Linked DNA regions of Homo sapiens: region 2 is linked to region 1. The links come from fine-mapping of genetic effects on plasma protein levels. A gene starts in region 1. The other region holds a variant in brackets. All regions are shown on one strand. Distances are between the middles of the regions.

Evidence for each region. PIP is the chance, under the fine-mapping model, that this variant and not a neighbour inherited with it causes the effect. Protein levels are from antibody-based Olink assays in UK Biobank. Linkage for the fine-mapping came from a reference panel and not from the study's own genotypes, which makes the PIPs less certain.
Region 2: its variant is fine-mapped to the plasma level of the ALDH1A1 protein (UK Biobank, PIP 0.97).

Annotation. Positions count from the first base shown.
Region 1 is chr9:72,947,235-72,964,097 of GRCh38, forward strand. ALDH1A1 (aldehyde dehydrogenase 1 family member A1) reads right to left here and starts at 5,819. Exons shown (of 13, transcript NM_000689.5): 1 at 5,701-5,819. The coding sequence starts at 5,766.
Region 2 is chr9:72,926,095-72,942,957 of GRCh38, forward strand. ALDH1A1 (aldehyde dehydrogenase 1 family member A1) reads right to left here. Exons shown (of 13, transcript NM_000689.5): 2 at 14,054-14,158; 3 at 4,785-4,925; 4 at 2,798-2,927; 5 at 1,022-1,083. Among named protein-coding and RNA genes, the nearest start is that of ALDH1A1, 19 kb to the right of the region's middle. The variant C/G (reference allele first, on the strand shown) is at 11,943.

The DNA.
Region 1 (16,863 bases):
ATCATCATGTTTCTGCTTAGCTCTGGCACTTTCTGAAAGGAAAGTTTCTGATGTGGCTGAGTGCTAGTTTCTGGAAGAAACTGGAAGCTCTATTGTGAAGTAACTGGAAGGTGGTTGCTGCATTGAAGTTATAAGGCTCACTCACCTAAAACTTTTAGACCCTTGCTGCTGGTCAACAGACATTTTGGTAGCATCAGCAAAAGCTGAAAGACTGTTAAGAACACAGAATCTCAGACTTCAGCCTAGATCTATTCTTTCAACCACAGTAAGGAATGAATGATAAAAATGCAGTAATAGGTGTGAAAACAGTTGTTAGAGCTAATTGGGAAAGGGGGATAATACCCTCTTCTCTTAGGATATGTGTTATTTACTTCAGATTTTTTTCTTGATTAGGTTTTCTTGAGTGAGATTCTAGTACTACTGGTTTTGATATTTAAGGAAAAAAGGATATCATGTGGGAAAGCATCAGATCCAAGATAAAAAGATTTAGAATCCAGTTTATTCTACTTTTGCATTTTAAGAGCTATGTGACCTTAAGTCAGTCATGATCTCTGAGCTCGGGCTCCTCAGCTTTGAAATGGGACTCTGCTAACATCTTTTCTAGCTCCTCTCAGTGGTTAATGATGCACCTCAAATGAGAGAAATATATGAAATCAGTTTTGAGCTGTGATAAGCAATATAAATATAACTTACATTGAGAACAGAATGATCATATAATTCTAGGAGTCATCTTGGGAAAGAGAATCAAGGAGAGAAAGGACTAAGTAGTTAATAAGTGCCAGCCACATTCCACAAATTACCTCACTTAATTCTCACAGCCACTTTCCAAGGTAGTCATTCTCATTCCCAATTCACAGACAGAGGAACTGAAGCTCCAGGGGATGAGAAGCTTGGCCAAGGTCATATAATTAAATACATAGAATAGCTGGAAATTGAAGCCAGGTTTAGCTTGTTCAGTCACTGCACCTTGCAGCCAGTCAGCTATTTTTTTCACCTGCTTCCAAGCCCAAAGCAAACAAAATATTGCTTCAGTTGGAAGGAAGTTAAAAACATTTCCCAAGTGAAAGCAGCATCACAGCACAATCAGCTTTGCGTTGAACATAAGTCCTTTCCTGTTTTAAGCACCTCTCAGTGATCTTCCTCAAAATCCGCCAGCCGATCTGGCCCCAGCCTGTACTTCAGTTTCATCTCATCCATTCTCTCCCTTATTCACTTTACTCCAGCCAGATTAGCCTTTGGATAGTTCTTTGAGCATAACATGCTCTTGTCCTCGGGGTCTTTGCATGTGGTAAGACCTCTGGATCTTTGTTCTTCCCTACTCTTGGCCACCTTATTCTCTACATCCCTCAGGCTTACCTTTAAAGCACCTTCCCAAAAATCCTCATCAAAAGCTCTTCTACTCATATCCTCTCAGCTTTCAGTTATTTTGCTTTAAACATTTATCCTAATTTCTGATTAAAGCATTCTCTTATTTTCTGCCCCACACTATTCCACACACCTTCCAGGAACAGAGGCTGCATGAGACGTGAATCATATTAGCCCTCTTATATCATGAGAACTAGCATAGGGCACTCATTCAAGGCCTTGTTAAATAAGAGGAAGGGAAATATGGGAGAAACGAAAAGCAAAAGGGAGAAACAAGCAAAGGGGACAAAGGAGGTATTTGGAAGTTCATGTAGCTGAATTTGTTTGTTGTAAGAATTTAAAGAGATAATCATGGGGGAAAAGAAGCACTTCAAATCGTGCCTGGGACGTATTATTCAATGATTCATAACTCTTCTCCATTGAAAATATCTCTTTAACCCAGAAGGGTTAAACAAAACCAGAAATCTAGGAAAGCAATCTCCTACTCTAACCAAAATCGATTCCATAGGAGTTGAAGAAATGTAGTTCACACAGACATTTCACATCCATGTCAAAGTCCTCTGCCTCATAGCCTCTCCTAGCCCAAACGTCACATTTTCAGTCAAAGCAGAAAACCTATTTCCTTTCAATTTCCCTATTGTTCTCTTTTTCTAAGTTGGCTGCAAACTTTCTCTTATTGGCCTGGGAACAGCTGAGCAGCAGCTGGAAAGACCATGGTAATCAGCAATGGGCAAATGAAAGTCAGGATGAAGAAGGATACAAGAGGATTCTGGCAAGTCAGTGTCCCAGAGTAGTGGAATTGACCTTAGACAAGTCTCTTGCTAGTGTGTTAGCTCAAACTGCCAGCATTGGCAGTGTAGCTTTGTCACTTACTTGCTGTGTAACTTTAGTAAGTTACATAGCCGCTCTGTTCCTCAGTTCCCTGAACTGTGAAACAGGAATAGTAACCTCCTCATAGGGTTATTATGAGGAGTAAATAAAATCATTGTCAAGAACTTAAACAGTCATGGCAGAGTAAGCACAATAAATTTTACCTATAATTATTTATTGTGTGTGTGTGTGTGCGTGTGTGTGTGTGTGTGTGTATGTATGAGTAAAATGTCATTAGCTGATGAAGGTCTTTTGTAGCATGAACAAACCATGGTTTAATAAGTGAAGCTTACTAATTAAGTTAAACATTTTGGCGTTTGAATTCTGTCTGAGAATGCTTGTCTTCTTGAATTTCCTATTTCCCTTTTATAAAAAAAAAAAAAGAAAAAAGAAAAGGTAAAACAACAGTATTGTGAAGAGAGAATGGCAAACAAAGTTACCGAATCCTGTAGGAGAAAATTTTTGATCCCTGAAATCTTGGAAGACCCTTGGAACTTCACTCTGATGCAATCTTTGTCAGATGGGACATGACTGTACAAAAAAGAGTGACAGAAAAGCTAGGAGAAGACGTGAGGCATACTTGTAGGAAACAGGTCTAGGAAAGGTTGGGTAAAAGGGAATATTCTGGAAAAACTGGAAAGGATTCAGAAAAATAGGACTAGGATCACTAACGTTAAATCATTTCCCATGTCCAGGCATTATTTCAAGGGCTTTGTACGCATTAAGTTCGTTTAATACTTTCATCGACCTTAGAAAATACGTGCCTTTATCATCCCCATTTTAAACATAAGAAAACCGAGGCAGAGAGAAGTAATGTAGCTTGCCCAATGATCACATAACTTTCAAAGAATCTCTTCATTTAAAGGCTCAATAAAATGGAAAATGTGGGGTTCATTTAGAGTTGGAAAGAGGAGTAATGAGGATAAGGATGGGATATGAGTTCATATTAGTGAATTTATAGCGATGTTTTTGAGGTTTTAAATTCCAAAAGCTTTTGTATAATTTTAGAAAGCATTTCTTAAACTCTGATCTCTCTTTAATCTACCCCAACAAAGAAATAATCAGACTGTACTAGAAAATAAGTCATAAAAACATATGCATCAATAAATTCTTTTGTTTGGGTGAAAAGCAGTCCCAAGCTTGAGAGTATGTAGCTTTTCTATCGTAGTTGTAATATTTTTTTTTTTACTCAACCCTGTCTGTTCTCTCCAACTTGTCCTAACAACCAATATACTTCTAGCTATAATAATAATAAAAAAGGACATTAGAATAGTAACAGAAAAATAACACAAGACTTTAGGGGCTGGTAATAGAAGATAATTCCTCAGACACTATAAACTCCTTGCTTACTTGGTTTGTAACCAGGGAACTTTTTATAGTTAATAACCATCATTTTTTTTTTTAACTCCTCTTGCAAGAGCAAATTCAATCCAATTCTTCACTGGGACATAGTAAACAAAAAATGCGAAGGCATTTGAAAAAGTTCACCCATTTAGATTTAATTACATACATAACTGGCGTCCTCCCAAGTGTGAAAACGCTGTAACCAATAAATTAAACAATAAAATGCTATCTGAGCAGAACAGATTTATATAGAAGATGCACGAGAAATCAAAATTCACTGACTTGTTTGGAGTATTTTTACCCAGAAAAGTTCTTAAACACAGAGCAAAACGCCTGCTCTTTGAGTCTTGCCTTCTTTTGGACACTTAGGTCAGTCACTTTCCCTAGAGGGGAGTTGTTGCACAGTGACTTCGAAGTGAATAGGTTTCAATCTCAAAATCATCTCTCTGTGTTAAGGGTTCATTAGGTCTGTGCTTGTATGTTAGATTTTTAGGACCATCTCATTTGTCTAGTACCGCTTCTTACATGCTTAGTTAATGACTACTAAGTGAAGCTTAATTTAGCAGGAAGGTTATTTACATTAGAGCTTCCTTGAAATACACACACAAGGAAGACTTTGCAAACTTCTGCAAAGCCAAAGGAGTGGGGAGACAGGGGCATCCAGACTACCAAAATATCTTCCTAGGTAGTATTATTAAAAAAAAAATCCCATTAATAATAGTAATACAATAATCTGAGCATTGTCGACAATTTTGAGCTTCATGAAATGTATTTTTAAATGTACCCACTTTCAATTGAAATTTCTTGTGAATGACAAACTTGGAATAAGAAAATGAGGGAGACTGGACTCTTGCAACCTTTTGGACATACCTTTGCCAAATGTAAATTGTTTGACGGTATGGATTTACTGCATTTTTCATGCTACCATTTGTAGTAAAACTAAATGGAAAAAATCTTTCCTCTTTAACAAAACCTCGTGATAACAATACCTTAAAATACACTTCATAGCTGCTGGTCAACCATGTTAAAGGCACAATCTGATCTCTGCTGCTACTTTCCTGAGGAAAAGAGCCAATCAGCTGAGCAACTTCCTCATTTGTTGTGCTTTATGAAAATGAAAATGCAACAGACCTTGGGATTTCAAAGCCATCCATGGTTACAAGTGAGGAAATAAATATATAACAGTGGGGACTTTTACTTTATCATTAAATTATAATGCCCTTTGTTTTTCTGTTGGCTAATTCAGACAGCAAAATGGCTCTCTCTTGATTTGCAAGAGTTAATTTCTTACCATACTTTCTGCATCACACCATAAAGATAACTTCAAGTAATTTTGGTTAGATTGTGTTTTATTCATTTGTTTGTTTTGGAGTTCTAGGATCTGACAGGAAAGCAGTGTGAAACAGGCAAAGTTCAGAGTTACTCTCAGAACGACTCAAGCAGGATCCATTTCCTAGTTCCCCCCAGCTGCGGATTTTAAAGTCTGGATCTAGCTCCTGCTCTTGTTTCTCTAAATATTTATCAGTTAACAATTACACATCTGCTCCAATGGCAACAAACTTGGCTGAAGAAATAATGCTTTTCTTCCTCCCACCAAAATATGCAAAATAATGCAAGTCCATCTGAAGATTTTCGAATCCAATTATCAGACTTAAGTCCCCCTATTTTAACACTCATTTTATTAAACATATTGGAAAGTTATGTTATTTCAGTATGCTCTCTTTCTCCTTGTTTGCTTTCTATTGTTCCTACTCGTTTGGTTCTTTCCAGTAAGCTTCTCTAGTGAGTATTTTGCTCTCTTATCATACATGCCGGCTATAGTGAAGTTAATAGAAGTGCTTAGTAAAGTCCTCTGAATCCTGGTATAAGAATCCTTTCACACAGAAGAGAATTCCTTTCGCTTGGAAATATTTTAAGAAATAAATTTATGAAAGATTGTCTGATATGATTTAGATCATATTTGATCAGGACACTAAACTGAGACCTGCATTTTGCATGCCTTTTATTTTTATATTTGCAAAGGGCTCTTTACACAAGTTTACTTAAATTGACCTTTAATGCTTTACATAAATGCAGTTTTTGCAAACCCGAGTCAAAGCAGAAAATAGAAGTTTTACTCACCTTAGTATATTGAATCTTCAAATCGGTGAGTAGGACAGGTAAGTCTGGCGTGCCTGAGGATGACATTTCTGATTCGGCTCCTGGAACACAGGTGACTGGCTCAGCAATTTGGTTCTGATAGAGCACTTGGCTTTATTTGTTCCTTTTTTATCTGCACGGGCTAAAGTTTATTTGCATACTCGGATACGATTGGATGAACAAACTCAGAGCAAAAAAAGAAAACGACACTACTTATTTGTAACACCTAGGGCAGGAAGCCTTTGACTTTAAACTTAAATCCTTAAGAAACCAGTGCTCCAGCATCGAATTTGTACCTGGAGACAGTGCACTATTTGCAGATGAATTAATTTACAAAGCCGAAACCTGTGATAAGTGTATGCAGCAGCTGCTCTGGCCACTAAGGCCAGTTATTATTTTTTTGACTTCTCATGCTTTTTAATGCTACTATGTAACTTTCTGTTCTCTGACAGACTTGGAATCAGAGAATTTGAGGATTGAAAAGAGTCTAAAAGGGCACTTGTTCTCAGTAGAAGCTGGCCAGGTGTCTTCAGGACAAGGCTTTCAGGAAATCAGTCCATCTCCCAGAAAATCAAGGTGCTGTTTGGGGAAGAAAGGCCCTTTATCTACACCCTACCCTAAGTTAGTTTTAAAATATCGTATCAGTCTTGTGTATTTTCAGTGCTGGGTAAGTAGACCTACTGTGATCTCAGAAGCCCTAAATTATCTTTATTTTCTATATGTGAACAGAAAAGCCAGCAGGACTTTTAGGGAATTCGGAACACACTGTCACACACAATCACCACAATTAGAAATATGGCAATATCATCTATTAATACTCATTTAAAATGAAAGTAATCCTGGTTTTGGAAGTTGTCTGTATTTATCAACATAGGCAGTGTACAAAGACTAAATTTAAGCAGGGCTTCCAAACAATTCAAGTTCTTAAATTAATATTTAGCTGAAGGACAATTTTTTAAACAGTGTTACTCCCATTTTAAGTACAATACTTTATTGTATTGTAGCTCTAGCAAACGTTACAATAGGAACAAGATAAAATACTCTGGATGCTCTGATTGTGGAGAATCAACCAATTTTTTTTTTTCTAGTGAAACTTGCCAATTCCCCTGAATATGGGACTTACATAGGGAAACTAAAAATTTCTGAATTGTTTGCCCAAATCAGGTGCAGCACTTGTTTCCCTTTCTACCCTCATTTCATATCCCCATTTTAGAGACATACAGAGGGTGAGTAGCTTACTTATGGTCACAGATCTATTAGTGCAGGACCAGAATTTCATTTCAGGCCAGTCTGACTCCCAAACCTGGACTCTTATTTCTGTTTACTATTTCTACCCTATTCTCCACAAGAGAACTCCTACATGGGTTCAAGCATCAACTGCTTTGGTTTTCTCAGTGAATAGTCACCCTTACAGGCATTTAAACATAACTTTTTATTCATCTAAGACAAGAATTTGCAAAACTTTTTCTGTAAATATTTTCAGCCTCTGGGCTGGATGGTTTCTGATATAATTTACTTGACTCTATTTAAAAGAAACTGTAGATGATAGGTAAATTAATGGGTGTAGTTGTTTTCCTATAGAACTTTATTTAAAAAGACAGAAGGCAGGCCAGATTTGGTGCACGGGCCAACTCCCTAGATTCTAAGGCAATATCATTCCCAATGCCTTTGACTCCCCCGTGTCTTATGTTTGATGACCAGATAGAAACTTCTGTGTTCTTTCAACATTTCTCTGTTTCTTTCTTTTTGGAAAGTCTAATTGTTTTCTCTCTCAAAAATGTGTTTTGAGTTAAATGCACAATTACACAACAGCTGTTACATAACTTGAGAGTGGCGCTCTGGCCATGCCCAAACAGCTGTGTTTTGCTGCTTTCTTCTCCCAGAGTCACAGTTGTTTGTGGATTCAAATACTGGTTTATTTGATGTCCAGGCGATGAAAGCTCAAGGCTTCATAACATACTTGGCTTGTCATCTCACTTCTTATATGATCATTCTCAATTGTATTTTATTGGATAATTATGTAAGAACAGTCCCTTTATACCAGGCATTCCTGAATGTAGGCAAAAGGAGTTGCTTTGGAGACAGGTTACCACACCTGCCCATTTAATTTCAGCAAATATTTACTAAGTATCATTTATGCATCCATAATTCTTTAGCCCTAACCTCACTTAAGCAGATCTTTTCTGCCTAGAAACCACAGGGCCTGAGACCTATATTTTTGAGGTAAACATCATCCTGCCCTGAGAGCTTATTTTGTAGAATAGCATATTTCTGGGAATTGCTGCATATGAGGAAAAGATTTCATCAGACTACTTCTATTCCTTACAGAGGAAATAATGGCTTTTGTGAGAACCTAGGGACCAAGGTTGCACATTTTAGAACTGGACCCAGGATTGTACGTTTTTATGGTATGCCAGGACTATGCAGCAGAGGAGGAGCTGTCCCTTTAACTTGAGAGTAATCGACAAATGATGTTTCATCTTCTTTTTCCTCCTTATGAACAAACTAAATCACACACACACACACACACAGGCACACACACATATGGAGAGAGAAGCAAGAAACATAAGAGGATAGTTTATTCATCTCTTGAATTTGACTTCTCCAGCCATTTGTGAAAGCTTTCATTATACCAAGAAACATATAGATTATGACTTCAACCATTCTTGAAACTACTCTTTCATTTTACAACAAACATCTCCAGAACTCCGTCCAATCCTCAGTTCCTGAAAAGATAAAAGGAACCTAATCTGCCACCCAGGACTTAAAATTTTTAAAAAAATGTTGAAAAAAGTCATATGATGAATTAAAAATAGCTTCTGCAATGGACTGAATTTTTTTTGTCCAGTCACAATGGATATGTTGAAATCCTAACCCCCCATGTGATGGTATTAGGAGATGGAGCCTTTGGGAGGTGTATTAGTCCATTCCCATGCTACTAATAAAGACATACTTGAGACTGGGTAATTTATAAAGGAAAGAGGTTTAATTGACTCACAGTTCAGCATGGCTGGGGAGGCCTTAGGAAACTTACAATCACAGTGGAAGGGGAAGCAAACACGTCCTTCTTCACATGGTGGCAGCAAGGAGAAGTGCTCAGCAAAAGGGGGAAAACCCCCTTATAAAACCATCAGATCTCATGAGAATTCACTTATTATCATGAGAACAGGATGACGGTAACCCCCCTCCATGATTAAAGTACATCCCACCGGATCCCTCCCATGACATGTGGGGATTATGGGAACTACAATTCAAGGTGAGATTTGGGTGGGAACACAGAGCCAAATCATATTAGGAGGTAATGAGGTTATGAGGGTAGGACCCTCATGAATGGATCAGTGCTTTTATAAAAGGGACTCCAGAGAGATCTCTCGCTGTTTCTGCCATGTGTGGATGCAATGAGACATTGGCAATCTGTAACCCAAAAGAGGGCTCTCACCAGAACCCAACTATGTTGGCACCCTAATTTCAGACTTCAAGCTTCCAGAACTGTGAGAAATTAATTTTTGTTATAGCAGCCTGAATGAACTAAGACAGTTTCTTTTCATATTTCCTGATTTCAAGATGCTGGAACCATTTATTGAAGATGAACCTCTCCTACTCCAGTTACATGACCACTCCCCTAACTATTCTCTGTTGCCTTAGCATGTCTGCCTGTTGGTAAACCTAGCAAGAAATCTATCCCTATGCTTTTGATTACTACATTTTTATCAGATACCACATTGCTCTTATGCTTATTTGAGTTTTAATAATTTGGGAAAAGTGGATCTTGTATGTAGTGAGAGAGTCTGTACTTAGTTGACAAGTTGATGTTAAAAATGGAAGTGGAAGGCAGAATTCAAGTATATGAACATATGTATTTGTTGACTAATTTCTGTTCACATGCCATTCTTCTTCAATTGGAAAAATTTCCTCACCTCTGATTTCTCCTGCTCTTTACATATCTTTTCATTGTTCTTCTCTTTGGCTTGTGTTACTGAGATAGGATAGATGCCCCTCTAATCTGGTCTAACCAGGACACTAACTGATTAGTAAGGTCACTAAAAGAAACAGTACATTAAAGCCTCTGTAAGATAATTATTTGAGTTTAAATAGGTTTTTGCTAAACCTTATGGGTTGAGGCCATTTCTTGGAACTGGATTTGCTGCTTGGAATTTGAAATAATCTTGCATAAATAGTACTCATAGTGTTTTGTCTAGTTTCCAGTTTGCTTCCTTAATGTGTAGAAAGAAAGACATGAAAGACATCAATGAGTCAATCAAAATGTAGACTACTTTGAGATTTCCACAATTTTTTCTTTTTTTTTTTTTTATAATTCTCATGCAGATTATCCAACAATGTGTTTAGAAATTTGATGATATTGTTTGTAATATATTCAGTTTAATTTTCATATAAACAACTTTTCTTACCACCCCTGCCCTGGCAATGAATCAATATTTTGAAGCTATTGAAGGGGACCAGAAGACAAATAATTAAAGAATAAAGCTCTATAAACTGGAAAACATAAGACAATGGATTCTTTCCTAGAATCTCTGGAGAGAGCCTGACCTGTCCACTCCTTTGATATTGGCCAGTGAAACTGATTTCAGATCTCTGGCTTCTAAAAGTGTTGTTTTAAACCGCCAAGTTTATAACTGTTACAGCAGCCATTGGAAACTAATGCACTAATCAATAAAAGTTCAAGTTCATAGGTGTCAAAATGTATATGTTGTCATTGATCATGCACCCGTCATTCTTTGTGTCATTCAGGTTTATTGTTACTATCTAAATATTCTAATTTAAATAAAGGTAAGCTTTCTATCTGTACCTTACAATGAAAAACTCATCAGGTGTTTTATATATTTTATATACATATATATTTATGTATATATATGTATGTGTATATATAGAGAGAGTAAAGATGAGAAAGAGGTTTATTTGGCTCATGTTTCTGTAGGCTGTACAAGCATGGCACCAGCATCTGCTCAGCTTCTGGTGAAGCCTCCGGAAGCTTTTACTCATGGCAGAAGGCAAAGGGGGAGCATATATGTCACATGGAGAGAGAGGGAGCAAGAGAGAGGGGGAAATGTGTCAGGCTCTTCTTATAACCAGCTCTCCTGTAAATTTATTACCGTGGGGAGAGCACCAAGTCATTCATGAGAGATCCACCTGCATGACACAAACACCTCCCACTAGACCCCACCTTCAGCACTGGAGATTACATTTCAACATAAGATTTGTGGGGGAAAAACATCCAAAATATATTATTCTGCCCCAGTTCCCCCAAATCTCATGTTCTTCTCACATGGCAAAATACATCATTCCTTTTCAATAGTCCTCCAGAATCCTAGCTTGTTCCAGCATCAACTCAAAAGTTCGAAGTCTCAAGCCTCATCTGAGACTCAAGGCAAGTTTCTTTTACCTGTGAGTCTGTAAAATAATAAACAAGTTGTTTACTTCCAATATACAATGGTAGTACAGGCACTTGGTAAACATTCCCATTCCAAAAGGGAGAAATTGGCCAAAAGAAAGGGGCAATGGGACCTACACAAGTTCAAAATCCATCAGGGTAGTTGTTAAACCTTAAAGCTCCAGCGTAATCCTTGACTCCATGCTCAGCATTCTGGTGTGAGAAATGTGGTCCTGAGGCCTCTGGTAGCCCTGTCCCCATGGCTTTGCTGGGCACAACCCACATGGCTGTTTGCAAGGGCTGGAGTGAATGCCTGCAGCATTTCCAGGCTCAGAGTACAGGCTGCTGGCGGCGCTCCCATTCTGGGCCTAGAGGGCAGTGGCCCCATTCCTACAGCTCCACTAGGCAATGCCCTGGTGAGGACTCTGTTTGGGGCTCTAACCCCATTTCCACTTAGCACTTCTCTAGTAGAAGTCCTATGTGGGAGCTCTGCCCCTGCATCAGGTTCCTGCCTGGGCACCAGTCTGAATACCTGCAGACTTAACATTGCATGGAAGCTGCCAAGCCTTATGGTTTCATCCTCTGAAGCAGTGGCCAGAGCAGTGTCTAAAGCCTTTTGAGCCAAGGCTAGAGCCAGAGAGGCCTGGTATGGGGAGCAATGTCCCAAGGTAGTGTAGGGCAGCAGGGCTCTGAATCTGACCCCGAGAACCACTCTTCCTTCCTAAGCCTCTGGGTCTGTGGTGGGAGGGCTTTGAAATGGCTTTGAGGCCTTTCTCTCCTTGTCTTGAATATTAGCACTTGGCTCCCTTTTAGTTATGCAAATCTCTCTAGCAAGTGGTTTTTCCTCCAGCTGGTGGATTCTTCTCCCGAAAATGCTCTTTCCTTCTCTACCACATGTTCAGGCTGAAAATTTTCTGAATTTTTACACTCTGCTTTGCTTTTAATTATAAGTTACAACTTTAAGTTTTTCCTTTGCTCCTAAATCTGATCATAGGTTGTTAGAAGCAGCCATGCCACATCTTCAGTGCTTTGCTGCTTAGAAATTTTTTCCTGCCAGATTCTAAGTCATTACACTTAAGTTTAAACTTCCATAAATCCCTACAGCATGGACACAATGCAGCCAGGTTCTTTGCTAGGGCATAACAAAGGTAACCTTTGCTCCAGTTTCCAATAAATTCCTTATTTCCATCTGAGACCTCATCAGCCTGGTCTTCACTGTCCATATTTCTATCAGCGTTTTGGTCACAATCACTTAACCAGTTTCCAAGAGGTTCCAAACTTTCTCTCATCTTTCTGTCCTCTTCCGAGTACCCCCTCCCCAACAAACTCTTCGAATGTCTTCCTGTTACCCAGTTCCAAAGCTGCTCACATTTTCAAGTATCTTTATAGAAATGCCTCACTCCTTGGTACTAATTTTTGATGTTAATGCATTTTATGTTGCTTTAAAGAAATACCTGAGACTAGATAAGTTATAATTTTCTTTTAAAGAGGTTTATTTGGCTGACAATTCTGCAGGCTGAACAAGCATGGCACCAGCGTCTGCTCTGCTTCTGTTGAAGCCTCAGAAAGCTTTTACTCATCGCAGAAGCAAAGGAGCAAGTATGTTATATGGTGAGAGAGGAAGAAAGAGTTACATTTTAAAAACCTTCCAGTTTTGGTTGCATTATAAATCTTTATTATATTGCAAACGTATTATGCAATAAATAACGATTTCTGTGAAAGCTTTTGCTTTTTAAAGTAATTATTATATTTGGAGAATATAAAACTTTTGGTTTGCATTTGCTTGCTTGAATTTGTTTTCACATTTTAAAGTTATACATACATATCCAGATCTATGACCACAATCCAAATTTATCTTCCAGGCCCTGGCTTTGCATTTCAACTGCTGGTCAGATAACTAAGCTAAATGCCACACCTCATCATGTTGCTGGGTTTGCAAACCTGAGAGCCAGCATATTTGTTTTATGTGGACTGTGCAATACTGTACAAATTAGAAACATTTTAAACCCCAGATTTTAACTTCTTAAACTGTCAGAAGACCTGAAGAATAGTTTTAGCCTCTCTGCTACACATTAAAATCACCTGGGGAATTCAAAACAAACAAACAAAAAATAAAAGATTCTGACTCTGTAGGAGTAGTTTGAGCCCAAGTGCGTTTAAAGTGCCTTAGGTAATTCTAATGTGTGGTCAGCTGTCAGAATCATTGGAGCAGCTCTGGGTTCCATTTCCTCATAATGCAACCATGAAGCTGAGTAGTAAAGGTTCTCAAAGTTGGAGCAACAACTACATCCACTGGCAATCTTTTAGAAATGCAGTGTCTGACCCCATCTTAGACCTACTGAATCAGAAACTCTCGGGTGGGGCTCAGCAATTTGTGGTGTAACAAGCCCTCCAGGTGATTCTGATTCATGCTCAACTTTGAGAATAACTGCACTCCAACATAGACCTCGATCTATCTCTATTATTTATTCTAGTCGCCTTTCACTTAGGTTACTACCTAGTCCTTTATTTTATATTTTAAGACCACTAAAGGAACACATTATCATTTTTGCAACATAATCTTTTTCTTGAATTTCCTGTCTCTGATTAGGACAAAACAACACCAACCGAACTTCAGGCATTGGCAGTTTCTTGACTTTTTTTTTTTCTGTTAAAATATTAATTTTATTTAATGAAACAAATTAACACTTTCAAATTTCCAGTGTCCTTATATTTTAGATTTAGGTTTTAAAGAGCATACAGCTGGACTGCTTTTTATCCAACCTGTCTTTATTTAACGTTTATGTTTAATATGTATTTAATGTGTATATATATTTACTCCTTTATTTATATCTATTGTAATTACTGATGTACTTGTGCTTTCTCTTTGTCTTTAGATCAGTTAGGATTAAATTTGGCTGCCTCTGATGCAAAACCCAAAATAAATATTCAAGATGGAAATGGATTCTTCTCTCACATAAACAGATTGTAAGCAGGTTGTCCATGGCAGCCATGGTGTCAGAATGGAAAGACAGAGGCTGCTTCCAGCTCACTGCTCTAACATCCCTAAGGTATGGCTCTTTGCCTCCTGATAAGAGAAGACTGCTAGAACTCCAACCATTACATTTAAATTCCAGGACTCAGAGGAAAGTGACAAAGCTCTAGGGTCCATCTACATTTTGAGGAGGTTTCCCTGAAGCTTGGAGCTCATTGACCTTAGCTTAGTCTCATGTCCATACCTAGCTATAAGGGTAAATAAAGATTGTAAGCTTTCTCTAGGTAGCCTGGTTCATAGTTAAAAATCAGTGCTTGTAAGGGTTAATATCCAGAATCTACAAAGAACTTAAATTTACCTGAACAACCCCATCAAAAAGTGGGAGAAGAATATGAACAGACACTTCTCCAAAGAAGACATTTATGTGGCCAAGAAACATATGAAAGAAAGCTCATCATCACTGGTCATTAGAGAAATGCAAATCAAAACCACAATCAGATATCATCTCATGCCAATTAGAATGCAGATCATTAAAAAGTCAGGAAACAACAGATGCTGGAGAGGATGTGGAGAAACAGGAATGCTTTTACACTGTTGGTGGGAGCGTAAATTAGTTCAACCATTGTGGAAGACAGTGTGGCAATTCCTCGAGGATCTAGAACTAGAAATACCATTTGGCCCAGCCATCCCATTGCTGGGTATATACCCAAAGGATTATAAATCATGCTGCTATAAAGACACATTCACACGTATGTTTATTGCAGCACTATTCACAATAGCAAAGACTTAGAACCAATCCAAATGCCAATCAGTGATAGACTGGATAAAGAAAACGTGGCATGTATACACCATGGAATACTATGCAGCCATAAAAAAGGATGAGTTTGTGTCCTTTGCAGGGACAGGGATGAAGCTGGAAACCATCATTCTCAGCACTCTAACACAGGAACAGAAAACCAAACACTGCATGTTCTCACTCATAAGTGGGAGTTGAACAATGAGAACACATGGACACAGGGAGGGGAACATCACACTCGGGGGCCTGTTGGGGGGTGGGGGGGGTTAGGGGAGAGATAGCATTAGGAGAAATACCTAATGTAGATAATGGGTTGATGGGTGCGGCAAACCACCATGACACGTGTATACCTATGTAACAAACCTGCATGTTCTACACATGCATCCCAGAACTTAAAGTTTACACATAAAAAAGAAAGGAGTGCTTGTTGTATTAAAAATGGGGAGAATGACTATTGCAGAGGTAACTAGCAGTTTCTGCTCCACACTCTTCTTCTTGCCTATCTTCTGTTTTACTGATTATAATTTATTTATTCCTGGCCGGGTATGGTGGCTCACGCCTGTAATCCCAGCACTTTGGGAGGCCAAGGTGGGCAGATCACTTGAGGTCAGGGGTTTGAGACCAGACTGGCCAACATGGTGAAACTCCATCTCTATTAAAAATACAAAAATTAGCCAGACGTGGGGGCATGTGCCTGTAGTCCCAACTACTCAGGAGGCTGAGGCAGGAGAATCGCTTGAACCTGGGAGGCAGAGGTTGCAGTGAGGTGAGATTGTGCCACTACACTCCAGCCTGGGCGACAGAGGAAGACTCCATCTCAAATAATAATAATATTAATAATAATAATACTAGTAATTTATTTATTCCTACTTTTTCACTTCTGTTCTTGTTTGGAAGAAATGCTTTTTGTTAACCTAAAAATTTTAACAAACTTACATGTAAATATAATTACTATTTTTTTCTTACAAAGAATTCAGGGATTTTTGAACACTCTCATTGTCCTATTCTACATATTATCGTTGTCTGTTATAAATTTTTGTTCCACCTTGATTTATAGCACCCAAATGAGTCATAATTATATCATTATTATTTTATTCACTCAATTCCTATTTTACTTTACCTGTTTATTAAATTTTCTTCACTTATTATTCATTATTTAATCTCAGTATTTCCTTCTTGGCTTAATTTCACTATTTGAGAGTCTGTAGAGGTTCACATTCTTGACCAGTCTTGTCAGGAGATTGTGAACTTTGCTAGTTTTTCTTTTTTTCTTTTTTTTTTTTTTGAGACAGAGTCTCGCTCTGTCGCCAGGCTGGAGTGCAGTGGCTGGATCTCAGCTCACTGCAAGCTCTGCCTTCTGGGTTCAAGCGATTCTTCTGCCTCAGCCTCCCAGGTAGCTGGGACTACAGGTGCGTGCCACAACACCGGGCTAATTTTTGTATTTTTAGTAGAGATGTGGTTTCACCATGTTGGCCAGGATGGTCTCCATCTCCTGACCTCGAGATCCACCCACCTTGGCCTCCCAAAGTTGCTGGGATTACAGGCATGAGCCACTGCGCCTGGACTAGTTTTTCAAAGAATTTTGGACTTTGTTGATCCTCTCTATGTTTGTTTGTTTTTATTAATTTCTGTTCTTATTGTTTCCTTCATTCTATTTTCTTTAGGTTGTTTTGATGTTCCTTCTCTAACTTCTTGATACTTAGATATTTAATTTTCCAGCTTTTCTTTTTTTTTCATTTAAAGCCCTAAATTTCCCCCTAAGCATGTCTTTAGCAGCATCCATAAGTTTCTGTATAGCATTTTCTCGTTTGCTCAATTCAAAATACTTTTTAACTCCCATTATGATCTTTTCCTTGATTCATGGGTTATTTTGATGTGCACTTTAAAATTTCTCTATTGGTTAGTAATAAACAACCGCAAAATCTTTGTGGCTTACAAGAGTAAGGCTGTTTTTTATGTGCTTACAAGTTTAGAATAAGTAAATAC
Region 2 (16,863 bases), 21 kb before region 1:
AATCACTGACCAGCCATGTGAACTCACACAGGTTACGTGCTCTCTGTATCTGATTTCATAATCTGTGAGTGCTGATAATAGTCCTCTCTGCCTCAGAAGGCTGTCTTGAGCATTAACCAAGAAAGAGGGCCAGGGGCTCAACACAATGACTGGTCTAGCATAGACAAGTAGTACATATCAGCTATTATCAGTGTTCATAATTATATAGTTTTTATCGATTTATTGGGACTTTTGAATTAATAAGCAATTTCACTAAAATATTGATATGAATATATTTCAATCTCATTGGAGCCAAAGATAAGTCTTGACCATTTCTTCACATAAGGACTTCGCTACCATTTTTTTGTTTGGCCTTTTAAAGCATGTCAGTTAAAATAAAATCATTTAGATAGTGTCCTGTTTGTTGGGCTTAAAAAATCTTCACAATCCTCTTAAAAAGGCTACTTTCCTCTAAGAGTAATATGGAGGATCTGAGCCTCTTATCTAAAGGTAAAATATATTCCATGCAGTGCTTCAAATGCCTCTGGTATTCTTTTTTCCATTTTGATTAAAAAATGTGTGTCATGAGTTGAACACTCTGGGAGCTACTGTTCTGCATGATGAGATGTCTCAATGAGAAAGTGCGTTGGAGAATAGTAGGCCCCACTACATTCCACCAAAATGCTATCCTGCAGATGTGCAGTGGAGAGCACCTTGCCATATACATGTAAAGCTTGGCTCTTATAAAGAGTACATAATACAACTTTTAATAAAACAACCCATAGAGTAAAGGGTTAACATTTATGGATGATGTAGTATTAAAACATTCTCAAGAGATATGCCAGAATATAGATAGGTTTTCGGACTACCTAATTCATATGCAAGAAGTTTAGTCACAGGGAGACCAAGTTCAACAAATCTTACATTTACTCCACATTTAACAAATACATAAGCATCCATCTGTTTTAGAGAAAGCTTCATCATTAGATAGAATAAGAACTCTTCTTTTTAAAATTGAGAATTATATAGGAGAAAAGCTTACAGGAATGATTTGGCCACATACACCAATAGGTTCATGTCTTGTATATGTAAAAAAATTTCCATCTGAAAAATAAAACACACACAATCATATATAAACAAATGTATTTGACATTCACAAAATGGTGGTTGGTGATGTGAGAGAAAGGTGTAGACAATAATTTTAAAAACATATATCTGGCCAGGTGTGGTGGCTCACGCCTGTAATCCCAGCACTTTGGGAGGCCGAGGCAGGCAGATCACGAGGTCAAGAGATCGAGACCATCTATATCTCCAACTATTCCCAAAATGGTAAGTGAAGCCCTAAAATAGTAATTCGAAATGATAGGAACCATAAAATTGAGTTAGGTGAAATCAAAGAGGCAAAATTGGCAAAAATCTGAAAGATAATTAATTCCACCTTTCATCTTCTAGGAGGCCTGATTTGAAAATTATCTTTATTCTCTAAGTGTTATAAAAAAGGGACGAGAAAGGAAGTAGGAGGTCTCTGGCGAAGAGAAGAACCACATTCCAATTTGTTTCTGGTAGCTCAAAGTTCTACCAATAAGAGAATTCTTTTTAAAAGTTATAATATAATTTTTAGAAATAGTAAAATTAAAAACAGTAGAATTAAAAAGAAAATCTCCCTATGAGTAATAAGCCTTTCCTACTGACTTGTTCTAAAATGTATTTTATTTGCCTACCAAACAATAATAGCAAATTCTCTAAATACATGAAGAAAATGACAGGAGTATAAGACATTTATTTTCAATCTAAATTTGACCAATTTATGTGCCCCGAAGTTTAATGTGGTCATCCAGAGAGATACATTATGCTTTACATTCAATTCTGTTCTAGTTCCCACAGAAGCTTCCTGGTTTCAGCAAGGACTCTCTTCATCAAGATCTATTTGTGTTTTAAGTGACTTCTCCCATTTTGTCCCGGAGTAAAGTAGGACAGTTCTAAAGTAGCCACATTTCTTAGTACCACCGAGGTCTTACTCTCCTCTCAACTTTCTGCTATCACTTCTGACCTCCTGCATGCTCCAATTGGATTGGAAGTGCACATCAGGGCCAGTCCTGGAGGGTATTGTATTCCTAAAGTTCATAGGTTTGCCTGAATTAAATTCCACCCATACTGTTTCCTAAATGTGTGTGTTTTCATGTTTCACATGAAATATCTTTAGTATTTCTACTCCATTATGTGCATACCCCACTAAAATAACACATACGTACAGATTCACACACACAAACCCTTAACTTAGGCTGCAAACACAGTCCCATCTTGCTTTGAAGATATTTGAAACGAGTCCGTGTGAACTGGCTTGTTTGATTAGTCTGGTCTAACTACACTGAGTTTGACCAGGCACAGATGACCATAACTGACTTATACTGGAACATGTAAAGAGGCTTAAATAATTACATTACAGAAAGGATATAAATGTCAGTATTGGAATAAAACCCAAATAAATAATTTCAGAGGTCAGCTTTAAAAAGTTTGGGACCTTAGAGAGGCAATTGCCTCAGATCAGTAATTACTGCCAAAGGAATGTTCTTACTTTGACATTTTCTAAAATATCTATAATGTTATCTTCATGATTATGCTGAAACAACTTTAAAAGACCTTTTATGAATTTTAATAGAACTTCTAAGTTGAAAACTGTGTTGTCTCAAAGTCAAGAGGAAAATAATTTTGCCTTATTTGGTTGACATCTTTAAAAGGGAGAGTTTGAAATTATTCAGCTCTATAGTAAACTCCTCGCTCCTATCCTCACCATTAGTGGTTTCTCAAAGATACTTACCAATTGGTATTGTACGGCCCTGGATCTTGTCAGCCCAACCTGCACAGTAGCGCAATGTTTTGATGCAGCCTGCTAAATCATTCAGATATGCATTGGAATAGAGTTTTCCACCATTCATTGACTCCATTGTCTGAAAAACATGTCAAACACCAAATCTAAAATTCCATAAGTTTTAGATTAAAAATATGTAGTAAATATTTTCAGCAATCATGTGCTAGGGAATTTTTGAAATAGAAGAAATCTTGTCATCTTGTCTAACCTCCACTTTTTAAGAGTTAAAATGACTTCCTTTAGGTCAAATAGCAAGATCTGGGCACAAAGGGTAGTGAGATTCTGATTTCTAAACCCCAGTGCTCTTTCTATCTCATTTTGATGTTCTCCTGCTAACCAGCTTTCTAGGAATCGGTCACAATTTGATATACACATAACATCTGAGAATGAAACCTAGTCTTCTAAGTCCTATCAGAATTCCAACAAGGTTTCTCTTATTTTGTAATCAACTGTGGGTGACAACTTAGTGTCAGTGACTATTAATGATGGCTCAGTAATCATTTTTAATTTTTACATTCCATCTGGATATACACAGTCTACTCACACAAACTTAAGTAATGCCTGGATTTTTCATCCATGAATTTCCTTCAGCAGAATTTTAATTAGGAAACTACCAGTGTTGCCATTATTGTCATAATTGCCGTTTTAATGGTCAGGTAAAGTTAAACATTTTCTAGTCATGTGCCCTAACCATTATAAGATGACCTATCTCCCCTTTGGCTTCTCTTCTTAAGCAGGACCTTAAGCTCTTTGAGATCTAATATTCTGCTGGGGTGGTTACCTGGCAGAAATGCACAGGTGATGAACTGTTAAAGCTATTTGTTTCTGTACTACACTCTCTATCATGTCAAAATTTAACCAAATGTGACTTTTGTATGCCTGTACTTTTCTCTCTATAGGATCTTATGCTGACAGGCAGTCAACAAATCAGATAATTGAGAAAAGCCAAGTTTTAGCATTTTCTGCTTTCTTCCTACAGGTCATTTTTATTACTATAGTTTTATTGCACATAGCTGCTCGTTCTGAATTTTTGTGTATTTCAAATTATGTTGAATATTTGAGTAATAAATGGTCCTTTGATTAACCATACTTGCTATTAACCATACATGCTAATGTTGATTTTTTAAAAATGTAGACTTCTTTGTTACTGCCACTTTCAGATTCTAAAGATGAAATTTGCTTGAAACCTGATCTTGGTATTTGTTTATGTTAAATTGGCTTCATCATAATGCCCAATTGAGACAACAGAAACAAGGAAATACCCTCCCCCAACTATATTATGCTCTGACTCATCTAACTGCTAAAACATAAACAAACAAAAATAGTATTCATAAAAACATGATTTTGATAAACCACATTAATAATTGGATTTTTTTTATTTTTTGCCTCTTTCATCTGTAAAAAGAACATCATTTAATTATGACCCTTGTGAACAGACACATTTCAGGAAGAAAAAAAGTAGCCATTTATTAAATATCTTAGCGAGCTAGACTAATGAGAAATAAGATTTATTTTAGAGAAATATTTTGGGCACCCTTAACAAACTTGAGTTTTTCCATCAAAAGAGCTCAGTGGTCAAATGCTTGAATAAACCTAATATATCATTCTAGGAGACTCAAACTTCATGTGATCTTATTGAAACCTCTGAGAAGTTTTAAGGTAAAGAAATTTCTAAAATTTGGTTTAACTTGGGTTTGCTAAAGTTTAGACCGTAGAATCTATTATGGGAGCAGAAATTAACATCATCCAGAATTGAAATGCAGATTACTATTTGAGAATAGTTCAATGTTAAGGGGCCTATTCATTGGGACAAAAAATGTTTTCATTTTGTTTGTAGAGAGCATATAGTGATCCCTAAAATCAAAACAACTTGCCATTTCAAACGCTGAATGCTTTTGAGAGCTCTAGCTACCCATCCAGCTTGGATAATACTCACCGCCAGCAGCAGACGATCTCTTTCGATTAAATCAGCCAACTTGTATAATAGTCGCCCCCTCTCGGAAGCATCCATAGTACGCCACGGGGATCCAATCTGAAAAGCCTGTCTTGCGGCCTTCACTGCCTTGTCAACATCCTCCTGTAAGTCAACAGGAATTCAATTCAGTAAGCTAAACATATTAGGCAAGCAAATTTAATGCCAATAACCCTGTAAAATAGACTGTAGTGCCTCATAAGCAGGCACTGTGTCTCCATTATCCCAAAGTCTAACACATTGCGCACATTCAACTACTGTATGTTGGAATTACTCCTGCTGAATAATCTTTACATGATGAGCTCCACGTACCTAGCACATGCTGGATTTCCTAGAATATAAGTGTTTTATGATTTTAATAGTTGCTATCATCTGAGTGCTTGCCCTGTTTCAAGTAATGTTCTGATGACTTTATACCTATTAGCTCATTTAATTCTCATTAATTTTATGGCACAAATATGTTCCCTGTTTTACAGATGAAGAAACTAAAGCAAAGAGAGACGGGAGCTTTGCTCAAGGTTAATAACTAAAAGTGGCTGAACTGAGTTTTAAAGGGAGCCCATCTGATTGTAGAATCTTTGCTGTTTACCACACATTATACTTTCTTAGTGACTGGGTTACAGGAATTCCAGGTCAAGCTCAAGATCCAAAATAATGAATATCTTCCTTGGTCTCTGGTGACTCAACAGCCTGTCCACTTTCATGAAGAGCCTATTGAAGGGTGAATAAGAACTTTGCTTTGCTGTTGAAGAATAAACCTTAGAAACATGTGCTCATTCCTCTTGTGCAGAGGGAACAGGGCATGGAAATAGTGGAACTAATAGAGTAGGATGTGCATGTGACAACCTCTCATTTCCCAACTGGGTACAAAGAGATCCTTTTAAATCCCTAATCCGATAAAGAAGTCAGTTTCTTATTAAAGATGCATGGCTTAAAACTACATTAATTCAAGTAAAAGTCAAAGAGTAAAGTGACTCCACATTCAGTGTAGCCTCCTGTCCTTCACTCTCATAGTGCCTTCACTCAATTTCTTTCTCTGTTGTGTTTTTCTACACCAGATATATTCTCTGGTTCTTTTGCAATTCACCTCAGTTACAAATATTGCCCTGACCACTCCACTCCCCTGCAGATCCCTGTTCAGACCTCTTCTGAGCTCTTACAGAACATACCTACTACTACTGCAAACACCATAAAGGAATATATCATTCCAGTGTTCTTTTGTACATAGAACTGGCCACTACATGGAATTGTATAGCTCCACAAATAGTGGCTATATCACAGGCCAGTAGGTTGCAATATTTTGCAGGAGACACAATTCCCTTTAAGAATTGGGGGAGAGAAAAAGTAATGACCCTAGATTTTTTTAAAAAATTGTACACAATTAAGCTAAATCCCATCTAAGGAGATATCTTCCCCTCAAATGGACCTCAAATTAACATCCTCCTCCTTAGGCTATATTCAATCAAGAAGACCCACACTTACAAGTCTGTGAATTAAAATACAAAAAAACTATTCTTCTAGTATTTATCACCAAAATAATATGATCTGGGGCAAGAGAGATATTTTAGAAGCACAATCTGGTCTGATTAAGTAATAATATTTACTGACTACAAGCAAAGATTCTTTCAGTGTAATACATCACACACTGATATATCTCACTGTCTAACTTTTCAGAGAATGATGATATATACAAAATATATGTATTTATTGCCTGCCTTTCCTGAGAAATACATATACAGTGCATATTTGCGGCATTCAGTTAATCACATTGATTGCTTATATTTAGACATTGTTTCATGCCACACGTTCTAACTTTTTCCTAAATTTACAGAGCACTGTTTGAAAAAAAGAAAAAGCAAACCACAAAAATCTGAGATTGTCAGCATGATCTGTGGATACCAGAGCTTATAAAATACATGCTGGTCTGTGTTTAAACAGATCTGTATGACACAGCTTTCATTTGGATCTTTCTGTTCAGTGTCCTGCTATTGGTCTTAGCCAAATATGGGCTATCATAGGGATCTTGGCCTCCCAAAGGGATACGGAGAACTGGCTTCAAGATAAGTAACTCTCCCATATGGAAAGCACATCCCTAAAGAATGCTGCTATAAATAAAGATGTTCTTATGATTATGTCCTTTGGATCATGCGCCCCCTTTTCTCACATCTTATATGTAATCTTGCAGATGCAGAAATACAGTAATGTTAGTTAATATATAGTTTGATATGAAAACAACCCAGATTTGAATTCTGATTCCTCTTCATTAGCTGTGTAAACCTTGAGGCATCTAACCATTCATCCCTCTAGCTAAAGGTTTGATAAATATTCGACTCTGCAGCATTCTCATCATCCCTCCGCTAAAGACAGCAGAGTGAAGTAAGAAGATTGTCCTTTTGGAATATTCAATCAAATGGGAGAGACATACAATCAAATCACTATCCCAAAACATTATTATAAACCATGAAATATGTTGTGGCATGACTTCTCTAAGGTTCAGCTTTCTTTTCTTTAAAATCAAGGTATGTTGCTTGGTGTGGTGGCGTGTGCCTGTAGTCCCAGCTACCCAGGAGGCTGAAGTGGGAGGATCGTTTGAACCTGAGAGGTGCAGGTTGCAGTGAGCTGAGATTGCACCACTGCACTCCAGCCTGGGTGATAGAGTAAGACCCTCATCTCAAAACAAAAAAAAAAAAAAAAAAAAAGAAAAAGCAAGACAAAAGAAAAAAGAAATTGGGGTATGTTACCTCACAGGGTTGTAATGAAGATTAATAAGATAACATTTAAACATTTTCTATGTTAGAACATTATGTATTATTCAATGGTGGCAATTGTTACTGTTGTCCTAGCAGTTAAAACTTTAAATTTTAATATAACTCTCAGCAATTTCTCCCTCTCTCAATAGAGGGAGATTCACTCTGTTGCCTAGGCTGGTGTGCAGTGGCACAAACATGGCTCACCAAAGCCTAGACCTCCTGACGAGCCTCAGGTGATCCTCCCACCTCAGCCTCTGGAGTAGCTGGGACTACAGGAGTGCATCACCATGCCCATCTAATTGTTTATTTTTAGTAAAGATGAGGTCTTGCTATGTTGTCCAGGCTGGTCTCAAACCCCTGGGCTCAAGTGATCCTCTCACCTTGACCTTCCGAAGTGCTATGATTGCAGGCATGAGCCACCGTCTGCCTAATTTTTTTGTAGAGATGGGGTTTTGCCATGTTGTCAAAGCTGGTCTAAAATTCCTGGGTTCAAGCAACCTGGCTGCCTTTGCCTTCCAACGTGGTGGGATTACAGGCACACAGGGATTATAGGTGTGTATTGCTGCACCTAGCAAGTTCTAATGTATTTTAATCCTTCCTTTCAGTTTTCACTGCTCTGAACAATTTTAGGCCCTATTATTTCATATTGTCAATGCTGTCTCAAGTTCATTCTCTTCTCTCCTCAAACTATCTTGGCTACTATCACCAGGCTAATCTTCTGCAAATAATTTTATCTTATCACTTTGTCTTTCAAATGTTTACACCTGTTCCCTTTCATCTACAATCTCAAGGTCAAAGTCCTCCCTGGTTTTCAAGGCCCAGGATTTTCAGACCACATCTCACCTATCCAAACTTAGTGTTTACATTTTTTCTACTCTATCTGACCCAACTCCTTCTTACTTTTGTGTCTGTAGTTCTCCTTGCCTAGAATATTATACCAGTATACTCCCTTACTTTCTAAATCCTATATATACTTTAAGACCCAGCTCAAATATCAATCTACCTAAAACCTTGCCAGACTAGTCCAGCTTGATGATGGCTACTAGCTAAGAGCCTACTAAGCTCCAGGCACTAAGGAAAGTTCTTTAAAGCCCCATAGTTACTATTACTATTAAGTATCATGAGCCTTGGTTTATAAATGAATAGACTATGGCTCATGGATATGAAATCTAGCAGACAGTAGAATCAACCTTTGATCCCACATCTGACTACAAAATCTAGTTCTTACATCTCTGTAAGGCTGCCCTAATAATGACCTCCTTTGCAACAAATATATACTGCTATTTGTTTTGTAAACTGTAATATTTCTTACAATTCTGGGTCTACAATGGGCAATAAATAAATTTTGAATAATTTGGTTACCTGTTTTATAAACTCATCATGTTGTACTGATTTTATATAAGGGGTGCCTTACATAATTAATTTAACTACATTGGCATTTACATAATAAATCATATTTTAATAGATTCCATGATACAACAAAACTTATACATTATTCAAAAACTGTTAGACATAACAGTTATTGTTTTCTTAATTCCAGGACTAGCATTTTTTAAATTTTTATTTCAGAACTGGAATTTTCAGGGATATAATTTTTTAATTAAACAGAAAACAATTTGGTACATTAACTCAGATTTGCCACCATCAATAACAATTTTGCTTATAGCACTGAAAATGCTCCTTTTTTTGAAGTAAGGGCCACAAGCTGAATGTAAAAAGACAGTTCAAATGATGATGAGATATCAAATGCCTCCTAAAGCACAGTTAAGGAAGGACTGAACTCTTCCATCACTCCCAGATGGTACATTTCCATATTAAATTCATTCAGAGATGGAGAAAATAGTTATCAGACCAGTTTTACTTTTACACATGTCAAAGGCACTTACTTTAACGGACATTTACTTTTATCCCCACCAATTATTTGTTAGGTCATGCCTTAGTATTAAAAGCAGTTTTCAGGATTAGTCAATATAGCCTAAAAGAACCACTGAAGTGAAAAGAAAACAGTTCCCACCCACATCTGTACTTTGCTTTGTAACCTCCATTTGTTCTTGCCCTTCCTCTTTTCTTTATAATACCGTTGAAAGGCGGTATGTAGCCCATTGTTAGCCCCATTCTACTTACAAATTAAATCCCTAAAACCTCTTGGCTCATTATCTACAGAGTCAGATACAGCATATTAGGTTTACTGTGACTATGTAATTTACTAGATTTGTACCTTTCACTAAGCAATGTCGGAGTTTACTATACATTTGTCGGCAAAATTGTGGGAAGAGCAATAATTATTTAAAAATATGTTTTAAAATAATTCAAAAAAGAATGTGATGATAAGAGTGCTAGATGTTCAAACTGGTTTACCATGAACAGTTTATACCATCAACATTTTAGTTTTAGTAACCAGTTGACCAGCCAACTCAGTTGGCATTGTGACCTGATTTGAAGCTTGGGTAGATGTTAATGAGCATCCTTGATCTCTTGGGTAAGCAATAGTAATTGTCAAGAAGCACAGAGCAAATCAGTGGCAAACATTTCTAAGTCTTCCAGTATGATCATTAGCTTTCCCTTACTATACTTTAGGAAGGAGGTAAATCCCACAAACTTCACTAAGAAAAGTCCTCAGACTGCCTGACAAGGTTTCAACTGGAACTTTGGGCATAGAGATTTGTTTTCCTAATAAAATTAATCCCAGTGGCAAAGGTCGATGTTCAAGGCTCCAGAACTAAAACATCAATAATATTTTTCTGTTTGTTAGTTGCAAACTGCAAACAGATCTGGCCTTCCTCTTGAATGGAGAGAGAAAGTATGTAGCTCTCAAGGGCTCACTCTGTCCTTGCCCTTTATTGCTTTTCTCACCTTCCCAGGCCTGCTAGAGCCACTCAAGCAACTAGAGGAACATTTGAGGTGGTGGTGTGTGGATCTCCTGAAGTCTCTGATAAAAGGCGTTCATTCTTCTTTGAAAGGTGAAGAATAAATTTCTCTCTTATTTCTGGGAATGGCTTATAGGGCACAGGCTTCTGGGGCTCCTATAGACCTTGCCAGGGATGATCAGTATTTCTATGCCCAATTTTGGTTTGGTAGCATTTCAGAGAGGTGCAGAGTGATCACCACAGTACAGTTTTCAATCACTAACTTTCTTAGGTGTCAAAACTCTTTGACCCCTGTTAAATGTTAACGCTTGAGAGGAGATACAACTTAACAGCTTAACACTTTAGTTCGGTGGTTCAAGATGCATTCCCTCACCTCCTTCCCAACCAACAACATCAGCATTACCAAAGAATTGATAAAAAATGAAAATTTTCAGGTCCCATTCTAAGATTATTGCAGTGAAACCTAGGGGAAGGTGGGGCTCAGCTATCTGTGTTTTAACAAGCCTTCCTGGACATTCTGAGACAGGCTAAATTTTGAGAATGTCTGCCATAGCCAATAGTCAGGTTAGTACTAAATTCCTAAGGTGAGGAATGTGGAATGTATGGAAATTCAACACTTGATGAAAAAGAAGACTACTTCATAGATTTATAGAATATACTATATCTATAGTATAGTATATCTATCGAATATAGTATAGCATACTTATAGGATATACTATATCCAGAAACCAAGGATATAAATGAGAGATGCAGTGTTGATCTCTGCAAGAAGCATATTGTCTCAGACAAATTAACCTATAGCTGTATAATACAAAGGTTATAATACAGGCAAATACAATGTCCTATAACCACACAGAAGAGAGTAAGTCTGCTTGAGAAGGTTAGAGAAGGCTTTAAATAAGTATAAAACCCGGGCATGACTGAAGGTTTAGGATATGCCTGGCACCGTTGAAGAGCTCTATATATTTAACTCCTCAAGCATTTTCTATCTCCTCATTTTACATGAAAAAGAACAGAATCTCAAAGAAGGTTAAGTACAAACATTGAAAATCTACGCTCTTACTATAGATGGTGACTTGAACTAGGTCCTGAGGACTACACTGTGGACATGTACAGAGGCAGTGACTAGCAAGCAATTGTTGGGGATGGACACTGGGCATGACGAAGTTGAAAGTCTTAAGTTAATGCGGTGGCCTGGGAAAGAGGCCATAAACAAAGGTTGAGTAATATTATAAAGGACCTTTGTTTGTGCACTTTTTCCCACAGACAGTGAGAAGCAGAATGGAGAATTTATGCTTTGGTGAACTCTTCAGTATAAAGAGTAAATCTGAATCTGAAAGCCAGTGACATTTGTCATCATTTTATTTTGTTTCTACTTCTCAAATTGTTAACCCCTATGGTTGAACTCCGTACTCCTGTGGCTTGAGACTTCGGTCTTACTTGTTTTCATCATACTGAAATCTGAACCAAGGGCCTCTCCTAAATCTAAAAGGGCCCCCTCAGGT[C/G]TGTCACTATCTTGGAATAAGTATCTGCATGGCCCAGTACGTTGAGATTTGTGATCTCATTTACTGGGGCTAAAGTAATGGAAAAGACTGGGCAGGAGACTGGCAGGAACATGTGATCGCTATAATTAACTAAAACACATTGTCATGAATAATATTATCCTTGGGTGTTGCTGACTTTAATTTCCCAGTAGTCTTTTCCTGCAGCAATAATAATAATAATAAAATAAAATAAAACATTACTTCTTTACAGAAATTTAAAACTTGGCAACCCCTGGGCAACTAAAGAGCAGAAAAATCATTTCAAATTAGACTTAGAAACACTTACGTGTTCAGAAAAATATTCTGAAGTTTTTTACTCTCCTCACCCAGGAGGAGAATAAAAAGTTTATTTAATATTATGCTATCTAATTTTTTATTTTTTATTTTTTGAGACGGAGTTTCGCTCTTGTCACCCAGCTGGACTGCAATGATGCGATCTCGGCTCACTGCAAGCTCTGCCTCCCGGGTTCAAGTGATTCTCCTACCTCAGCCTCCCGAGTAGCTGAAATTACAGGCATGCGCCACCATGCCCAGCTAATTTTTGTATTTTCAGTAGAGACGAGGTTTCACCATGTTGGCCAGAATGGTCTCAATCTCTTGACCTTGTGATCTGCCCGCCTCAGCCTCCCAAAGTGCTGGGATATCTTACTTTCATAATAAGAAAGACTATTTAATTTTTTTTTTTTAATGGAGCTTCACTCTTGTTGCCCAGGCTGGAGTGCAATGGCACTATCTTGGCTCACTGCAACCTCTGACCCCCGGGTTCAAGCAATTATCCTGCGTCAGCCTCCCCAGTAGCTGGGATTACAGGAACCCACCACCATGCCCAGCTAATTTTTGTATTTTTAGTAGAGGTGGGGTTTCACCATGTTGGTCAGGTTGGTCTCAAACTCCTGACCTCAGATCATCTGCCCGCCTCGGCCTCCCAAAGTGCTGGGATTACAGGTGAGAGCCACTGCGCCCGGCCAACCCTATCTTACTTTCATAATAATCACAAAGTGAAGCAGTAGCCCTACTAGGCACAGGTTATAGTGTCAGAGGAACAGCATTTTAATGTTGAGGTTATTACTTATTAGCAATGTCACCTTGAGTAAATTACTCAGCCTTTCTACTCTGCCATCTCATCATTATTTGTAAAAATGACTCAAAATAGTACCTGCCCTATAGGGTTGCTTTAAGTTTTAAATGAAGATAGCATTTAGAACTTGAGAACAATTTTCACTAAATAAAAACTGGTTTTTGTTGTTTCTATTATTAGCTGGAAAATAACAACGCTTGTAATTTGTTAGTCAATTTAAGTTATTCTATAATATAATTTTTACAGGTGTTGAATAATAATATTAATGCAGTGATTTTTAATAAAATAACTTAGTAATATATTGTTCTAAAAGTTCTATAATAACTTTTAGTTTTATCTAGCAACATAAAAAGAACAATTTCATATGAATAAAGCATTTCTCTCCTTTTTCCTTTTCTTTTTTTTTTTGGCTGGAGTGCAGTGGTATGATCTCGGCTCACTGCAACCTCTGCCTCACGGGCTAAAGCAATTCTCCTGCCTCAGCCTCCTGAGTAGCTGGGATTAGAGGCATGTGCCACCATGCCTGGCTAATTTTTGTATTTTTAGTAGAGACGGTGTTTCCCCATGTTGGCCAGGCTGGTCTCGAACTCGTGACCTCAAGTGATCCAACTGCCTTGGTCTCACAAAGTGCTGGGATTACAGGTGTGAGCCACAGCGCCCAGCTGAAGATTTCTCTACTTTATAACCTATGATCAATCCCTTCTTATATAGTCTGTAAAATAAATCTATATACTATTTCAATTGAAAATAAAGGAAAATGATGTGAAAAAAAATCACCATGACACCCAGAAGCACAGGTTTATCATTATTACATAACTACAGAGCATTTTTTTTTTTTTTGGTAACAAGGACAACTTAGACAATTTTCCTAAGCTGCCCCAGAAACCATATTTTCATGGCATGTCTTTTGGAGCTTGCAATGGGGTTCAGGAGCTCAGAATGGCAAAAAACCAAGAAACCTGGCATAAAATGAAACTAGTGTTCAGAAACTCACCTTATCTCCTTCTTCTACCTGGCAGAGCTCCTCCTCAGTTGCAGGATTAAAGACAGGAAATTTCTTGCCACTCACTGAATCATGCCATTCATTGTTTATGAAGATCTGTAGAGATGAAGAGAAAATACATACAAGGCGCTTAAATATGCAGAAAATTTTGGAAGTTTTCATAAACTTAAACTAAAGCATTTCACCATGCCTAAATGATGCACATCTCTTCACCTCTCAAAACTTTCTGGCTGTTTGAGACATTTTGTGTTCACATGCATAGACATGTACTAAAATGAAGTACATAATGCTTTTAAGTTTAAGGTATGCAATCAGTTCAACACTAGAAAATACATACTGGAGAAAACAATCTAGAAAACAATGCTTTTACCTGAAATGGCCATGAATTTGAGGCAAAGCAAAGGCTTTTGTGGGCTTGGTCTTTATTAATGATTGCTTCTATTTTCCACTTTAAATTCTGAACATCCTCATTTTCGGCTACTGGTGATTTGGAATCATAAGAGACTATTTTCTAATCCTTTAATGTTTTAAAGTTAAAAAAAGAATTTTGCTAAAGGATTCTAAAAGGAGTTCACTTAGAGAAAATTAGCTAGTCACATTGTTTCATTGGCTTTTTAAAAGCATATGGTTTTATTCTCCTTTTCAAAAGATTACCTGGTAATTTCGTTGTCTTCAGACAAAATCAGGAACAAGATTTCTTAATGGTAACTATGAGAAATAGACATGCAACTAAAGAAACAGTAAGCACTAAAAAATATGAAATTTTGTCTGTGTGTACTATAAAATAGAAATACTTAAAAGCATCAGTATGTCATTTAAAACATCTCAGTTTCAACTTTCATGTCACTGAATTTGTCTTTTCTTGAGGAGCCAGCTTTCACATTTCTAATTATTTGAAATATGAAAACAATCATAAATACAGTCTTGGATAGTATATAACTTTCTGTTAGACTTATGACAAGATGGACTAGTTTATTCTATTTTGAATCAGAGGTAGCTAACACAGGGAGTAAAGGAAGGTGACATATGTGCTGGATTATAACATATATCCTAATTCAGACATCCCTTCTTACTGGATATCTAAAGATAAGTTATTAATAGTTCAACCCCGAGGGAGAATGTAATGAAACACTCCTCCAAGGTTTAAATTAGCTACTATGCTAAATGCAAATTACTTATTTATTAAAAATTCCCCGGTGATCACTAGCATAGCTTAAAATTCTATCAGAGTAATAAAATGTATATTACTATATATCCCTAAATGCCTGAATATAATTCATTCTATATTCTGTGATTTATTATTTAGACAAAATATACTTCCCTGGTCTCCTCTATACTTCCATTGGACAATTTGTCACTTTTTAAATAGTCATTTTTAAGTGTCTGCCTTCCATCAAGGGCTGTGTATGGTTTTCCAGTCTATCTTCAGTGTCCAACAGCCCTCAAGCAATTTTAGCCTCAGTAAAAAATTCTTGAATAACTAACTTAATTGAATCAAAGATCTATAATCCATCAGCTACTCATGGATAAGATCTATAACGTTCTGCAAATGAATACTCTATGACACTTGTGATTTCCTACAAAATGGGGAAGAGGATAAGCCGTCTTGTTTGCCCATTCATGCCAATATAATTTTCCATACAAGAAAACAGCATTATTTCCATACAAGAAAATTATCCTGTATAGTTAGAAGCATTCAAAGGAATTGTAGTACTAGCCTGAAATTGATGGTAAAACACATGGGCATGCCTAAATAAAGGGAAAAGGGGCCCAAAGCTGTTCAGATGAAGAGACTAGATGTGCAAAAATACATATATGGGGAAATGAGAAAGATGGAAGAAGTATCAAGAAACCCTATCAGATTACAGAAACAAGATTAACTGAATACAGATGAAGACCATAAAATTCATTGTATTATCTTTTGGGAAAAAACACTAGGCTCTTAGATCAACTTGAGGAAAAATAAATTCAGACGAAAGTGCTGATTTGCCCAATGTCTCTTAGAGTGAATCAACACTCTAGCTATCAGAAATACATTTTACAGAATCCCATAATTATTCTTAGAGTGTTTCCATTTATGCCCTTACAGCTTAGTATTTTTCTTCTCAAGGGATGGCTGGGAAAGAACTTAATCAACTTGTCCCGAACTCAGCTCACTGTCATCTCTAGCTTTATGCTGCTCTCACCCCAAAGTTCTGAAGCTTGCTCATGCACACTGTCCCCCAGCCCTATCTCTCACACACTTTCCTTCTTCTGTTAATGACACAAATAATCCCTAGGTACCCTTTTGTATCACTTTGTTCTATACAAGTATAAAAAAGCTTTCCCTGTTCTCTTTGCCCCCTACCTCTGCCTAATTAAAATTTAATTTTCACCTTGTCATCATAATCTTCCTCAGATTCTGTCTACAGCCCTCCTCAGAATACTTTAGTGATCCTCTATTGTCAGACTGCTTAACATGGCACTGGAGGTGGTTCACGATCTTGCTCCAACATGCTTTTCCAGTCTTTTGCTCTACCATTCCCTCAGTTTACCCTTTGTTCCAGCCTCATTCTACTGCCTCAAACACCATGCTGTTTTTTGCAGCATGCTTTTATTCACACTGTTCTTTAGACTAGAGTTCCACTATTTTCTTCTATTTTTACTTCAAATTCTAGCTTACTGCGTCATCTCCTCATGAAGATTTGACTAGTTGCTCCAATTGAATTTAATCTCTTTTTTCTTCTTTCCAACATAACATGTTAGTATCCTACTGATAAATTACTTATGTTCTGCTTTGTGTTAATGTTAGATATCTACAT